2 separate regions of the Homo sapiens genome follow, and region 1 is linked to region 2. Evidence: fine-mapped expression QTL. A gene starts in region 2. The other region holds a variant in brackets. All regions are shown on one strand. Distances are from middle to middle.

Region 1 (8,335 bases), 74 kb before region 2:
TTATAGATTTTTCTGTGCACCATTTTGCCAGAGAGGGCTTTTAACATAGTCGATATAAACATCAACTTCTTCATGGATCACTTGGATTTGAAAATCTTGTTTAAAAATCATCAAGGTTTATTGTTGTTGGTTGGGTTTCATCAGTTTCTTTGGTTGTTTGGTTGGTTGGTTGATTATAATAACATGACTACAGTGTGGTCATTGTTGACTATAAGGCCTCTCTAGAAATAAATTTATACAGGATCAAAAATCTTGTTAGTGAACTTGTGCACTCTCACAAGCATATTGCAGATGGTGGTTACAGACCCTACAGGCAGCTGTGGCTGAAAAGAAAAACAATCAAAAAACCCTCCCTGTCCTTCTTCTCCCTGGCACATGCATTCCTTGGATGACCACGCCTGACACTCACAGCTGCTGTAGAGCTTGAGCTATGTGACCTCACACCTGCCTTCCAGCCTGTCCTTGTGTCCCAGCAAGTCTCAGCAAGGCCATCATGCTTGAAACCGTCCTCCGATGTATCCTCCTTTTCTCACTACTTTTAATGTGATCTAGCAGTATTTGATTATGGTCCAATTCTTTATTGGATTATTGCATCTCATGAAGGCTGTGGTTTGCCAGTCATTATGATTGAGTTCATATACCTTTTGTTGCTGAGGAAGTTGCATTTGACTATCTTACCAAAAAGTACAGGCCCCTTGACCCACTGTTGCCTACTGGATTAGTGTCCAGAAAACCAATCACTTTCTTCTAAGGCAGGACAACTAACTCTAAGATGCAAACCTTTGCCTCATCCGCATTCGTGAGCTGCCCACAGAGCAGGAACCCTTCGTACTGGCTCCAGGGAACCACGGGCTCTGGGAGGTCTCGGAGGTAGAGCTTTAACAGGGAAGCCACAGTGTGCACATCTGTGTCTCTGGAAGAAAATAAGCAACGCTCTGTGAAACTCTTTGAAAGAAAAACTTTAGGATGTTCCTCTCTTCCATTCTGATGATTCAGTGAATAGAACCATAAATTACAAAGGGAAATTTTGCAGAGGAGTAGTCTGATAAAGAAGAATCAGACCAAAACATTTTTGTTAATTCGCCCTTCTGGAACAACATTCTTGAATAAATGTTCCTCTGTCTCTTCCACCCAACTACCTCAAAGGTAAGTTCAAGGTCTACATTTTTACTAAACGTTCCTTAATGATTTTCGTCTTTATTGCTTTCTTCTTTCTTCAAGTCATTTAGTGCCTCACAATTAGCATTGTCTAATTAGTCTCTAATATTGCTTGTGTTAACTCCTTTATATCCTTGGTCCATTCTTCTCTTTAATCTTCCAGAGTGCTTAAAATAGTTCTGAGGTTCACTCACGTATTTACTCAATAATTCACTCAATCAATAAGCATCAAGAAAACCTATTAGGTGCAAGATACTGCAAGATACTTGTCAAGCACTGGGATTTCAGTAGCCAATCCAAGGGACATCAGTAGCCATCCAATCCAGGGATGGAGCCCTGGCCCCATCGAGCCACAGAACTCTGGGGACTCAAGTATTAAAATGTCCTTACAATACTGTGCGGCTAATGCCATGATATGGGAAGCCCAGGACCCAGGATCCTATGGAAGTATGGAAAAAGAACACCCAAGGCAGAGATGGGAACACATAGGTGACTTGTCAGATGAAAGAGTACCTCAGATGAACTCTGAAAGGCGGTGAGGAGTTAGGGCATGAGGCAGGCAGCATGTGTGTCAGCCTGGAGCATGAGGAGAGGACGCCTCCCCGTGGGCCTGATTGACTGAAAGAGGCACGGCTGTTCAGTTCAGCTTCTCCATTTACAGGAGGGCTTGGCAAGCCACGGGCCAGGAGCCAAATCTGTCCCACTGCCTCTATTTGTACAGCCTGGGAGCTAAGAATTATTTTTACATTTTTAAATAGCTGGGGGAAAAAACACTCACAAGAAGAAGAGTGTGTCGTGATGTAAAAATTACAGGAAATTCAGATGTCAGCATCTGTAAGTAAAATTATAGAAGAACACCACCACACTTGTTCATTTATGTACTGAGCAGAGTATTATAGTTGCAATAAAGACCATCTGGCCTGCAAAGCCTAAATATTTAATATGTGGCCCATTAAGAAAAGTTTGTTGACCCCTGGCTTACAAGGCGATTGCATTGATTCTGCAACACTACAAGGGAAAATAAGATTCACTACCATATTCCTGAAGCTGATTATTGAAGAAATGTTTGTTTATTTCATATTGATAAAACCTGGCATTCTTAGGTAGCAGCCCTGGTAGCATCGTGAAAAGCTGTGATGTGGCAAGAGGTCCAGAATAACCTTGGAATCTCCTTGATTTCAGTGATGAGAAATATAGAATAGGCTGGAGAACATGTCTCCTGGTCCTAGGAGGGAAGGGAGGGGTGGATCTGGACAAGAGGAGGAGAAGGGAGGCATGTGAGGCAACAGAAGCAAGAATACTGGGGCTTGATTGTAAAGCTCTGTCTTGGTGCTTTGTGTGCATTTTACTTTGGTTTTGACAGCCAGTTGTTGTAGCTGTCTCTGAAAAGGCTTCCCCTTTGCAGCCTGTGAACTCTACCTCAATAGGAGAACACGGGCTGGCACAGAGCCCACTCTATGCTCCATGGCTGCCCTCAGGAAATCTGGGGTAGGAACCATTCATTTAACATGGGGATTCTGGAAAATCCTTCCCTGCTGAGTCACTGCCCAAAAATACCCAAGGCAAAGCCAGGCTAGAAAAAGTACTTTTGTCAAAATATGTTATGAGAAGTTCCCGAGAAAGTGGCAGAAAGACAGTCAGCTGACAATTTGCAGGAGCAGAATTCTCCCAAAGTCCAAAAGTTGCATCTTCCTAAAGTCCCTACACTGCAATCCACCCATTTGTCTCTATCAGCATCCTGGGACTCCTGTTTGATTGGGACCTCTCCTTCACCCCCATCCAATCAGTCTTCCAAATCCCTTCAATTCTATTATCCTAAAGTCACACTGATCCTTGTAAGCCTCTCCCCTCCTTTCACTACCCTATGCCTCCAGCATTCTATACTCTGCCCACTCTAGGGCACAGTCCTCAACACCAAAACACACCAATGGAATGAGTGAAGAAAACAGAGTTTGAAAGGGAAGAAACAGTGTAAAGGATAATTCAAGAAACTGGATCCTGGCTGGGAACAGTGGCTTATGTCTGTAGTCCCAGCACTTCGGGAGGCCAAGGCGGGTGGAGAACTTGAGGTCAGGAGTTCGAGACCAGCCTAGCCAACAGGACAAAACCCCATCTCTACTAAAAATACAAAAATTGGCTGGGCGTGGTGGCAGGTGCCTTTAATCCCAGCTACTCAGGAGGCTGAGGCAGGAGAATAACTTGAATCCAGGAGGCAGAGGTTGCAGTGAGCCAAGATCACACCACTGAACTCTAGCCTGGGTGAAACCACTGCACTCTAGCCTTGGTCTCAAAAAAAAAAAAAAAAAAAAAGAGAAGAAAAGAAAAGAAATTGGATCTTTTGAACTTTTGAAGAGAAACAACAACAATAAAAAAGACACCTAGACAGTTTAATCAGGAGAAATTTAGACAGCAAAAGCATCCATCATTAGAAAAGAGAAAGGGATTATAAATACAGCTACACCATGGATACTTCAAAGTTATAATAAAAGAGCAAAATTAGCTATATAAATCATCTTACAACACTGAAACTTACAGAAAGCTTCCCAGTTCATTTCACCAAAAATAATCCTGACAAGCCATGCCCACTGCTGGGCCTTGCTAACTCTCATTCTTGTTTATTGGGTCTCAGCTTAAATGTCATTTTCTTGGGGACCTCCCTAAATACACAAGACCATGTGAAAAGCCCCTGTTCTAAGTTTTCATAGTGTTGAGTTTCCTTTTTAGCACTTAACACCATGGAACTTAAACAATTATTTCTATAAATTTTTATTTTAATGTGAGCACCCCATTGTACTAGGGCTAACTCAGATGTCTATTTTATGGTCTAAATTTGTAGCATTATTTTTTCTGAGTTTGCTGTTCCTCTAACCCAATAGAGCACCCTTAAATGATTCTTTTTTTTTTTTTTTTTTTAATCAAGGGCTAAGAGTAAGTCAGGAGCCAGGTGGCTTCTGGGTTCAACGGCTGATGCACTAGGGATTACCCAAGACTCAGATGGTTCTGCCAGCCCTTCCCTGGGGGCATTGATGCTTGTAATGTGGCATGTCTGTAAGTGCATTTCTCACAGACACATAGGGGTGAGAAGTGTGTTAGCTTTGTAGCCAGGCAGTGTCCATCCTGGTAGAAACTTGGCAAGGAGATTTTAAAGTTCACATTTTTGTGTCTAAGGAGACCAGAAAGACCTGCACTAGTCTCACCAAACAGCAACTTTGCTCACCTTCATTCTAGTGAGGTAATGGGGGCATCTTGGGGTGGAATCCAGCACATAACCAATGCAGAGGATCTGGGTGAGTTCCCACAGCCGTGAAGTTGGGGACAGCAAGAGGGAGCTCCTTGCTCTCCCAAATACCCCTTCTTCCACCCACTGACTCCTAGAATTCCTTTTATAGGAGGCAGAAAAAGCTACA[A/G]CCATAGCTTCTCACTCCTGGTCTGCTCTTGACTCTGAAAACCCTCCCTTTCCCCCTTTCCTGCCCTCTTTCCACCCCCTTTCACACTGCCCCTCTTCAGAACTCCCACACACAATTCAGGTTAACACTGTCTCAAGGCTGGTCTCTTCCTCTCCCACTCCCAGGCCAGAATCACTCTCAGGAAATCATCTAACACTGGTCACTTTCACTTCAGAGTTAATTTGCCAGTTTTGTTGACCTGTCTTGAGTTATTGGTTTTGTCAATTCTATGATCCCAAAGTCAGCCTGATCCCTGTAAGCCCCTCCCCTCCTTTCCCTACCCTATGCATCCGGCATTCTATGCTCTGCCCATTGCGGGGCACAGCCCTCAACACCAAAACACACCATGGAATGAGAAGTAGGGGAGTATAAAAGGGGGTGGAGAGAGGGCAGAAAAAGGGGAAAAGAGGGTTTTCAGAATCATGAGTGGAATAGGAGAGAGAAGACCTGGTCTCTCCTAAATATGCCCAAATGTAACTAAATAATAAGAATCAAATAAGAGTCAGTCATACCTCCCAAATCAGACTTGTCCTCTCAAGGGTTATGTGGACCTAAGAGTTGCCCCTGCGAAGCCCCTGAAAAGCCCCCGATGACCTTTCCTATTTCTGGATGTGTAAAAACCCTACCCCTCACTTCTAGGGGTGGAGATGTCGCAAGGTAAGGTAATTTTCCTTCTTCCAGCCTCAAATATTTCAAAATAATCAAAGATTCCCACACCACCACCCATGCCAACTCCATAGTGCATAGGCTAGAGCCTAAGGCAGTTATTTGGCATATCCCAGCAATCACCTCTATTCCTTTTGGCACACTATATGGCATTGCTCTAGCAACAACCCACCTGTATCTTTCTTCAGGCCAAGGTTAACTGAAAACATAAAAAGAAACTGAATATAAAGGTGGTGAGCATAATGGAACAAGTGCCTGATAACAAGGTGCAGTTTATGGTGCTGCTGAAAGGTCCCTGTGTTTGATGCCAATAACGGGCTATTGTTCCAATAAGAACCCCATCTCTTGCTTCCTAGGGTGCTAAAATATAGCACCCATGGGAAATTAACTTATTAAGGGCAAGAAAGACACCCCTATGGTTGTCCAAACTACAACTGTGGCCATAAGCATGGAGAGAAACATATAGACCTCAGAGAAGCTTTGGAGGAAAAATGGGCGGCGTTGGTGATTAGAGTGAGGGGTGAGGGAGCTTCTACACAAGATGACACTTAGGTCTTCACAATTTTCTCAGAATCAACCCAACCCCATTGTCCAAAATAAGCTTAGCAACTTTCATTTTTGGAAACTGGGTAGAGTTCAGGCCCATCTTATTAAACCTTGGTTTATGGGCTGCTAATTTGGAAAGAGCAGTCAATCTTATGCCAGCAGGACAAGTTCACGCAGGCAACTGGGGTGGAGATTGCACAACATCGGGTGGGGATTTTACTAGCTGAGTGTGGCAGAGAAGGAAACCTCAGCTGAGTGGCTGGAGAAGGTGGGGAGGAAGGGGGTGGTGGGAGGAAATGTCACTATGCCTGATATGCCCCAAACAGGGCTGGGAGACCTCCACACTTAGGAATGCCAGGCGGCCAAGATATCAGGATGTGCTCCTGCAAAAGGGCTCAGAACTGAGTCAGAATCACGTAGTACTGTGATCCAGGAAACTAACAAGAAGTCCTGGTTCTAGCCACTTCTGGAATGCTAACGAAAGCCGCTGGTGCCCTTGGATATAGATCTGGTGCATTCTCCACTACACTGAGTGTTTGTACAGCTCAGCTCTTCCATGTTCCTCATCTGTCCTGAAGGGTGAGCCTCAGGCAACGTCCCATCTTTCTCCCCTCCTCTGCACATCACCTTCTCCTGTGCCTTAAACATCACCTGAATCTGCCCAGCAGGGTTCCAGTTCTGGTTCACATCATCTGTCACATAAACTATCTGCACACTCTCCTAACTGTGCTCCCGTCTCCCAAATTCCCAATCATGGGCGAAACAAAGGCTCTTTCTGTTGTAAGCCAGGGCTCTTAGAAGTCTCTATGCAAGTCCCATAGCTCAACTGGAATGGAGAGGCCCTCCCAGCCAAGCCAAGCAGAGGGGAGGGCAGAGGTGGGACACTGCAGTGGGGCAATGTACCTGTCAAAGGAGGGCCGCTCCCCAGCATCAAAAGCGTCTCTCAGCTGCTTCACCAGGTTGTCCTGCCCAGGCAGACGGAAGATGCCCTCTTCATTCCGGCCGTGCTCCAGGATGAACTCTGCACATTTCTCCACCAGGATGGGCACCAGATGGGGGCCGAATTTCTGTTCATAGGCCACAGTCTCATCCAAGCGCTGGCCAAACACTGCTGAGGAGAGAGCAAACAGAACCTGCCCGTCATTCTGTGCTTCCTTGGATGAACTATTTCTTGACTTTCTGTGTCACCTGTGTCTTCACAGGTTTTATTGCAATGATACTAGACAAAATATGGGAGATAAATCACTCAGAATATTTCCTGAAGCTATAAATAGGGGCCTGTAAATTTGAGGCAGTCTTTATCAGTCTTTTTATATTGACCCACATTTCTTACATATTTAAAATAATGGTTGGCTTTTACTGAATTCTTTTGCTAGGAATTGCACACTTTTTGTCCTTTAACCTTGACAGCAACCCCATGAGATGGTATTAATGTCACACGCACCTTACTGTTAAAGACACTGAGCCTTAGACACTTGCCAAAGTCAGGCAGCTCAGAGCATGACACAGTTGGGATTCAGGCCTAGGCAGTGAACTCCCAACAATATGCCTTAACCACGGCAGCAAGCAGGCCGTTTTGAGTTCCACTGGCGTCACAGAGTAGTAAAGCATAACACAGTATGGCATCCTCCCTTATCCACGGTCAACTGCAGTCTGAAAATATTAAATGCAAAATTCCAGAAACAAACAGTTCATAAGTTTTAAATTGCATGTCATTCTGAGTAGCATGATGAAATCTCTCGCGGTCCCGCTCGGTCCAGCCTAAGATGTGAGTCATCCCTTTGTCCAGTGTATCCACGTTATATACACTACTTGCCCAGGAGTCGCGTAGTAGTTGTCTCAGTTATACTTAGTAGTTGTCTCAGTTATAAGACTGAAAAGACATAATGTGTATAGGGTTCAGTACTACCTGAGATCTCAGGCATCCACTGCGGTCTTGAAATGTATCCCCCCAAGGATAAAGAGGGACTACTGTAGTCTATCACATAGATGTTTCATCTCACTAAACCACTGTGGCATTTAAAATAATTTAGGTTGTTTACTATGTCCTAATTATAAACATTGCCACAGCAAACACGTTCATTCACCTGGCAGAGATCCTGGAATGTATGCAGTACAATGCATAATTTCTAATTAATTAACATTTGGATGCATGAACAAAAGCGTTTCATTCTTTTGAACTATTTCCTTAGGACAAATTCCCAAGTGTAGAATTACTGGGTCAAGAGGTTTGAACATTTTTATAACTTGATGGCATGCAAATTGCTTTCCAAAAATATTTTCCCAAATTACCCTGCCTCCAGCAAAGCAAGTGTGGGCCAGCTCCACCCCAGCTCTGTCTGCGTGGAGAAACTTTGCTCCACAGTTTCCCCGCACCGGCAGTGTGAGAAGACAAATTTACAAATCAGGACAACCACTGCCTATCCATTCTCCCACCAGGCTTCCATACCCTGGAGGTTCAGAAGACAGGCCGTGGCTTCTGTCCTGTCCTGCGTGACTTTCCCTCTGCCATAATCAGG
Region 2 (8,335 bases):
CAAAGTTATATTCTAGGTCTGCCAGACCTATGGGTATCATTTTTTTTTTCTTTGCAAAGTGACTTTTGGTTTTTAAACAAGCTTTCAAAGAGAAAAAGGATGATGAGTAAAGCATAACACAAAAAATGTCAATTATTTTCTCTCTTTGTAACTTTTGTATCTCAGTTCCTGTCTGGGGACTCTACAAAATTTCCATGCCATCCTCTGTGACAGAATCCCCACAATCTGCCTGTGCCTCGCTGTGGCTCTCCGTCATGCTCTTCCGGTACTATTTGGTCTCAATTGCTGTGGCCACCAGTGGGACTTTGCTTCTGCTCTTCACTCCCTCCCATGTCTTGTATCTTAACACAAGTTCAGACCACTCGACTGGGGTGCACCTTCATGCCAGATTCTTTCCTCAAGCTGCCTTGTGTGTGATAGGACCATTTTCATCAACTTACTTCTCTCAATTGGTCCCAGCATCTTTCCAACACCCCCATAGTGGGCCTTACTCAAAAGGATCACATTCCAGCTGGTGGAGTCTCCACAGAGTTCTCCCATTGGATGCTACATGAAGATGCTTCATAACTGTGAGGTGAGAGACAGGGAGATGGCAGCACTACCATTAATGAAGTGACTTATAGTGATGTATACCCACGCCAGGGCCATTGGGCATCTTAACCCTGGCCTAGTTTCAGACACATAGGCAATAAGAACCATCAAGCTAGCCTCTGCCAATCCAAGTGCACAGTCTCAGACAAAGTACAGAATCTAAGCTGACCTCATCTGGCATGTACAGGGGGAATTTTGTGCATGAGTGGATATAAAACCAGGTCCTGTTTTCCCATCACCACTTAGGTTGGTCCCCACTCTGCTGCTGCTGCAGAAGGCCCAGAGGTGACATCAGTCCTTTTTCCTCAAATGGCCAGAAGGCTGTTGGCCTGGGCAACAGGAAGCATGCACTTCGTGGAGAGAATTTAATTTATGCCTAAATGTTAAGTCAACAGCAACATTACGGACAGACATTTTTACTTAAATAACCAATGGCAATGTAACCTCTGCATAAAAATAGAGTGGGCCCTGGAAGGAACAGCTCCCTTGTGTAGCTGTTCACTGTCTACAGAAGGCCATGTTCATATTCTTTTTTTTTTTTTTTTCTTGAGACAGAGTCTTGCTCTGTCGCCCAAGCTGGAGTGCAGTGGCATGATCGTGGCTCACTACAACCTCCGCCTCCCGGATTCAAGCAATTATCCTGCCTCAGCCTCCCAAGTAGCTGGGATTACAGGTGCCCGCCACCATGCCCAGCTAATTTTTTGTATTTTTAGCAGTGACTCTACTTGCATGTGTGGGGACCTTTATCTATCGGGGACCTTTATCTATCAGGGACCGGAGGCTACTCATGGAAAGCAAATACTTTGGGCACAGCAAACAGACCACATTCAGTCCATAACCCAGGCTGGTCTGGTTAGCATATAGTAAGTTTGGTAATGAATTGTAAAGAAAGCACTCACCACTTTCTGATGTTCAGAAAGCTGAACATCAAACAAACACAAATCAGTTCACCATGGGCTATATAGTTTCAGGATTCTCCTGAAACTGGGGAACCAGCATTTCAGTGTTCAAATAAGGTACAAAATGTGCTCAAGTAGACTGGCCTGGTCATTGGGAAGCCATGTAACTCTTTCAAGAAAGCCCTGTAACCTGGGGCTGGAGGTCCAGAAAGTCTGGACCTGTCCTCCAGTGATGACAATTCAGTTAAAAAGGCAAAATATTTGAGTAACTGCGTGAAGGCAGTGAAAGGCTGTCATGATTCTAAAATTGAAAATGATAAAGGATCACAGGAAGAAGTGTGTGCTCTTGGCTCCACCTCAAGTCAAGACTGTTTGTTCTGCATTTTCCTTTTTCTTCCAACCCCTATTCCTGCCAGGATCAATAGGTCAGATTCAGGAAGTTCTGTGACTTTTCTTCATCACTGCATGAAAATCTGTCAGACTCATGGTAGTGGACTCAGGTGAGTCTGCCATCCAGCAAGACCCTCTTCAGCTCTGAGATGGAAGTACAGTGGAGAGTCCCTCCCCTCGCTCTCAGAGACTTTCACTTTCACTCCAGCTCACAAGATTCTGGGGAAACTGGAAGCATAGCTCATCAAAAAAAGCTAGGGCCCCTTTCCTGGGTCACATTCTGGGTCAGTGTCTTGCTATTTCACCAAGGGCCCATTCTAGTGTCCTTCCTAAGCTATGGCCTGGCTCCCTGAGGACAGATCTCAATAAAAGCCTCCAAAAAATTGAGCTACAGAGTGAATCATGAGTTAATATTTGGGTTCTAGTCCCAAATGACCTTATATTCCACCCTTTTGGTGATCATCTACTCCAGGAGTTCTCAATTAGAGAAGATATTACCCTCACCCCCATCCCCAAGGAACACTTGGCTATATGTAAAGACAGTTTTATTTGTCACAACTGGTAGTGGTAGGGGGGTGTTACCATCACCTAGAAGGTAGAGGCCAAGGATTCTGCTAAACATCCTATAATTCACAGGACAGGCCCCACAACAAAAAACTATCCAACCCCAAATGTCAATGGTATCTAGGTTGAGAAAACGTTAAAACCACAGATTGTCAGCTTTCCTGACATAACTCCCAGTTCCACAGGTCTTCCCAATAGAGGTAAGTTTCTTTGATATATTGGTAAGCCAGTTCCTACAGTTACACCTGGACACAGGATGCTGGAGAGGGGACTGGAAGTCCTGTGACTGAGTCAAGGGCTCTCCCCCATCAGAGGACTCAGATTATGATCTGAATTCTAGTTCATGTGACACTTATAAATGCATCCTACTGTAGTCCAGTCCTTCAGGGTGACAAACTTATAGATAGCATGGATAATGACAAGGGCTCCTCTGTATTTCATTATGTCCTTATTATTATTTTTTCATTAAGTAATACTAAATAACATCATCTGCTTGTTTTTGTTGGCTGAAGCATTCATTCAGCCAACAAATATTTATTGTGTGCCCAGTTAAGAACAAGCACTGTGCCCTATACTAAATGGGTGAAAACTGTCTGCTGGGGCTAGTGAACATAGACCACAGTACCTACAGCAGGAATTCTTCCTCAGGTGAGGATGAAAGTGGGGGGTGCTTGTCAAAATGCAGGATCCTGGGCCTTCCTCCAGAGATTCTGATTTTGTAAGGATGGTGCCCAGAAATCTGCATTTTTAGCCAGCACTTGATGTGAGTCTGATATAGGTTATCTATGGGACCATGCTTTAAGAAACATTGGTAAAAATCATGAAATTCACTCAATCAAATCCCAGACCTGAGTATATGCAGTCTTGAGCTCTAGTGTGGTAATTTCCTATATCTGTGAAAAAAATCATTTAACTATTAATTGTCTCAACTTTCTTGTTTTTTAAACCAAAGGAGAGTAAGACCCTAATAACCTGTGTTCAAACATAGGTGGAGAGAAGGCAGAATGACCTTATTTATGTAGAAGCAGGACACTTTCAAAGGAACAGAACCATATAATTTGTATGACATAGATTGAGCATTAGCCAAGTACATTTGTATCAATGATAGTTAGGAGGAAAATCTCTTGCTTTTGTAAGAGGTATGAACATTACCTTTTCTCTGAACTGACCTCAGCATACAATCATTCACAGCTTGATTAGGGAACGCTAATCTCCCCTAGTTATCAAGATAAATGGCTTCTCTGATTACTCTGTTTTCTTTCAAACCCTTTCTCAGACCTACATCATTAATGCTCCGCTTGTGACTTTTCAATGGAGCACTTATTTTAGTAGCACACTTAACCCCATTAGAGGTTCAAATCTAAACCTTTTTCCAAGCAAAATTCCTCCAAGCTGTTAGAAACACCTTAATACTTATCTATATCTAATATCAAGGAAGTTATCTCATGTATGGGTGAGATACATAAATGTAGGCAATAGTTTTCAGCCCGATTGCTCTGATGTGAATTACTGTGACCAATTTAGCAATAGAAGAAATCTATGTAAAGAACTTCATAACGAATATATAGATTAAACTTAATGTATCACTATCATCATTAGAAGGACAGGGTATGGATTAAAGGCCAGACTATCTCAGAAAATATGCCAGTCTCCCTTAAAATAATAAAAAATACATCTCTTTTCCAACTCATCTAAGAATTCCCTCCCATTCTGTTCCTTTAATTATATTTTTATTAAGTAAGGTCTTTATTATACTTTAGTACGTTTTTATGTTCCTGTCTTGTTTTTGTTGTCTACCTTTTGCTACTACCTTTTAATACACCTTGACTCCTGGGCTCACAAAACAGAACACCCATTGAATTTACTTACAGATTGAGCACTTCAAAAGACTCTAGTCTTTGTGCTCCTGTTCAGAACCATTCAAAATATGGATGAGTTTCCAAACAGGAAGGAAATGGAATATGCTAAAAACTCACAGTTTTGTGTGTAGTCTGTAGCCTTAAATCATCCGAAGTACCCCAGATCCTGCACACCAAGGAGTGCCATCCCACTGTTTTGTCCAAATGAAAGAGAACCCCCTCCCAGCATTTTAGAACTTGGACCTGGCATGCCAACTTAAATGCAAATGGTCCCTCAAACTCAGATTTGCTGCGAGATCCATTTTTAAGTAGACTATGCTCCCTGCAGACCAACATGCAAATGGTGCTCGAGTATACGTAAGAATCACAGAGGCAACGAAAAGACACCAACCATACCTATTTTCGCAGCCTCCACTTTCAGGTTGAAATCCCAGTTCCTTGGCAATTTTAGGGACATTTTGCTTCCAGTTTAAGTGAGTAGTTAGTGAAGCGGTGAGTCTGTCACAGTTTGCGCCCTTCTTGTCTTTTCACTCTTTCCCTCTGTTTTTGTGTCTGTTTTTGTTCCTCCTTATGATTGCTTCACAAGCAATCTTAGGCTTGAGGCTGATTTGCCAACGTGTCTCCTCCTTTCTCTTAGATGAAAGGTCCATCCATCTGTCACTGGAGGATGGCACCCAAACTCCCCCAGCCTCCACCCTCAGTCCCACAGGGGCTAGCACCCTGCTTTTCTTGCTTTCAGTTTTACCAGAAATATCCCAGTTGACACTTCCCTCTGCGTCATGGGAAGCAAAGCTCCTTTTCGAAAGAATCTCAGGCCTTACTGAGTTGAGGTCGTGATAAACAACTGCTGCCTCTTGGTTTTGTGTGTGTGTGTGTGTGTTTCTTTTTTAACTGTCTGCTTCCTTGCATTTGAGGAAGTGGGTGGCTGTTCAGTGAAGATGATACATTATGAGCACTCTTTCTTGAGAAAATGGTTTTTGGAAATGCTTGAAAAACCAGAATGGTTGCTTCTGTTATAAAAGATTACAGTTTTAATTAGAAGAAAATGTCGAAACTCCCATCATCTACTTCAACTCTAAGCTCTCCTCTTCCTCACCTAACGGATCAAGCATCCAAAAATGGTCAGAAAAACAACAAGCATTCCCCCAAAGTTATCTTCTTTTAAATTCTTCCTGCTGTAAGGACCATGTCGCAAGCTCTCCAGGTGCTCAGGATAAAGTTTGCAAGTGATCTCAGCCTGATGTAGGGAGGGTTTTGATGTATTTGGCTTAATGAAGCAACTTAAGCTAGGTCGACCCACTCACATATCCTAAGGGTTCTTTGGCATTGTACACAGGGTGTGGGCTTTAGAATCAGGGTGTGTGGGCTGTATACATGGTGTGGGCTTCCATTTGCTAGCTCTTCAACTTTTGAACAAGCAACTGAATCTTTCCAGACCTTAATGTCCTCATCAGTAAAATGGGGTTGATAATAACCACAACTCAAAGGGTTTTTGCAGAGGAATCTAGTGCAGAGCTTGACACAGAGTGGTTGCACCACACACATTAATTCAACCTTTATTCTATTCTATTTAGTTCAGTTCTGTGACAAGCTTTCATGTTTAACTGGGTCAGCCTAACCTAGTGCTTAAGCATTTGGGCCCTGGAAACAGATCACTGGTAGTCAAATCCTGGCTTTCCTGCTGTGGGACTATGGACAAGTTTCTTGACCACTTTGTGCTTCAATTCTTATCTGTAGATGGGGCAAATAATAGGGCTTACTTCATAGGCTGTTGTGAGGCTTTAGTAGAAAAGCCAGTACAAAGTGCTCAGAACAGTCACTGCTAGCCAGCATCTAAGCTGCACGCCTTGCTCCATTCATTCTCCAACTCTCCTAGATGACTCTGTCATACTTTCTTCTTCACCTGCCACTTGCTTACTCTTACTGACGACCTGGGTTCCCGTTTCATTGAGAAAATCAATGTAACTGAAAGAGAATGTCCACAAGCTTCCCTCACTCTATCTGCTCACCTACCTGCATGCAAGCTGTATCCCTGACCTTATTCTTGGTACAATGGGTGAACTGGCTGTTAACACTCTCCCATCCCTATTGCATCATCAATTTCTTCTCTCTCTTTGATCCTTCCTGTCAGCGTTCAAACTTACTATTTTTTATCCCATAAAAAATCTCTCTGGATGCCACCACCCCCTTGGGCTAGAGTCCCATTTCTCTCCTTCATTTCTGAACCAAGCTTTAGTAAGAATTGTCTAACTTGCAAATATCTCTCCTCTTATTCTCTCCCGAATCCCTTGGTTGATGTTTTTGCCCCTATGACTCCACAAAATATATTCTCATCAAGGATACCTACGACTTCCCTGTCACTAAACTCACAGGTCAGGGCTTCATCTTCATCTCACGGGCCCATCAGCAGTGTCGGACACATTTGATAGCTCTCTCCAACTCTGAGCCCTCTGTCCATGGGGCTCCCACGGCCCATGGTTGGCCTGGCTGTCTGCCTGCCTTTCTGGCTTTTCCGTGTCTGTTTTCTTGCTGATTCCTTCTCATCTCTCTGACCTCTAAATATTGAAGGAAACCAAGACTCGACTGGACTCTTTTTCCATCCACACTCACACCTTGGTGAGCTCATCTGTCTCAAGGCTTTAAATGTCACATATTTGCAGATGATTCCAATGTGTATTTCCAGCCCAGACCCCCTGAACTCCAAATCACATGGATCTCTGCTTAGATCTATAGTAGCCATCTCAAACTAAATGTATCCAAACTGTATATCCAGAGAACGAGGCTGAAGGAACAGTGGTGACCTGGTGTATACTCCTGTCTTCAGGAATGAAAGGAGCACAAGAGAGAAGAACCTTGCAAGCGCATTTAACGCCTCTGCGCACACCCTGTCTGCTCACATTCCATTGGCCAACACAGGTCACATGGCCAAGCTCAAAGTCAGTGAGGCCGGAAGTACACCCAGTCCTCAGCAGCAGTGGGGAGGGAGAAGGGCCGGAGGGGTGGAAGAAGGGCCGGAGTGTTTGCTGATCAAGACTCCAATCCACCACACTCACCCAGTCTACCCAGCTACCCTCCAGCCTCCCCAGGGAGCTGGATTCCGCTGAACTTGACTCAGCTACTTGGAGACATTGCACTACTGCCTGCCTGACCCAAACACCACTGCTCTTTTTCGTATCCCAACTTAATTAAGCGGGTGTGAGAGAGGTAGCTGTCTGGCCCGGCCCAGCAGCATCTCCACGGGGGAATTCGACACCATCTAAAATTTCAGTCCTGGGACCTTTAAACTGAGGAATGTTGAAAATATTTTGAAGGTGTCATTAAGAAACACGCAGGGAACTTCCTTTACTTTTCAGGGTAGGTTCCTGTCAGTCTTGGAAAAACTCGTGACCCATGGGGGAAGTTAGTTGTGCAGATGCGGAAAGGCAATCAGATGGAAAGCACACTCCCCACAAGGGCCCAACACAGCAGCCTTCCCCCACCACAGAGCTCTCTCTCGGTCAGTCAACTGGGTACTGCGCTCCCTCTCTCTGATCTTCATAAAATGAAGAGCCAAATGCCTTGCCTGGTCCCAAAGTTTGAATTAGCATCTGCAGTAGCGCAAGCAAACATTGTTCCATCTGTTGGCTTGTTGAATGATAAGCGGATTTATTAAGGACCAAATTTTTGCTGGACATTGGAAGAACGTTCGTGAACAAGCAGACGTGTTTTCTGCTTCCCCACCTCACCGCCCTGACACCGGCTGTTGTCTCTTACAGTCTGTTGGGGGAGAAGAACAATTAAGTGAACGATTAAATACAGTGTGAGAGAGCTATGTTGGGGAAAGTGTAGGGAGCTAGGGGGGGTGTATATGCGAGGGGCCTAACTGGACTTGGGGAGTGAAGGAAGGGTTCCTGGAAGAAGTGTCTTTTAAAGTAAGGCTTGACAAATGAGTTAGGGAGGCAAGGGGGTTGGAAAAAGGATTCCAGACAAAACCAACAATATGAATGAGGCACGGAGAGAAGAAAGTTCTTCAGGTCGCTCCTAAGAAGGATG

Alleles and levels. Alleles are on the strand shown, and positions count from the first base shown. SD is a standard deviation of normalised expression in the study named.
For the expression in monocytes of the gene that starts at base 5,149 in region 2, allele A in region 1 goes with a higher level than allele G (small effect, 0.39 SD a copy in BLUEPRINT).

Evidence for each region. PIP is the estimated chance that this variant, and not a neighbour inherited with it, causes the effect.
Region 1: its variant is fine-mapped to the expression of ARHGAP25 in monocytes (BLUEPRINT, PIP 0.93).

What each region holds. Positions count from the first base shown.
Region 1 is chr2:68,805,865-68,814,199 of GRCh38, reverse strand. ARHGAP25 (Rho GTPase activating protein 25) reads right to left here. Exons shown (of 11, transcript NM_001007231.3): 5 at 6,720-6,927; 6 at 781-913. Among named protein-coding and RNA genes, the nearest start is that of LINC01888, 22 kb to the left of the region's middle. The variant A/G (reference allele first, on the strand shown) is at 4,566.
Region 2 is chr2:68,731,625-68,739,959 of GRCh38, reverse strand. ARHGAP25 (Rho GTPase activating protein 25) reads right to left here and starts at 5,149. Exons shown (of 11, transcript NM_001007231.3): 1 at 4,700-5,149. The coding sequence starts at 4,760. RefSeq lists an enhancer at 155-384.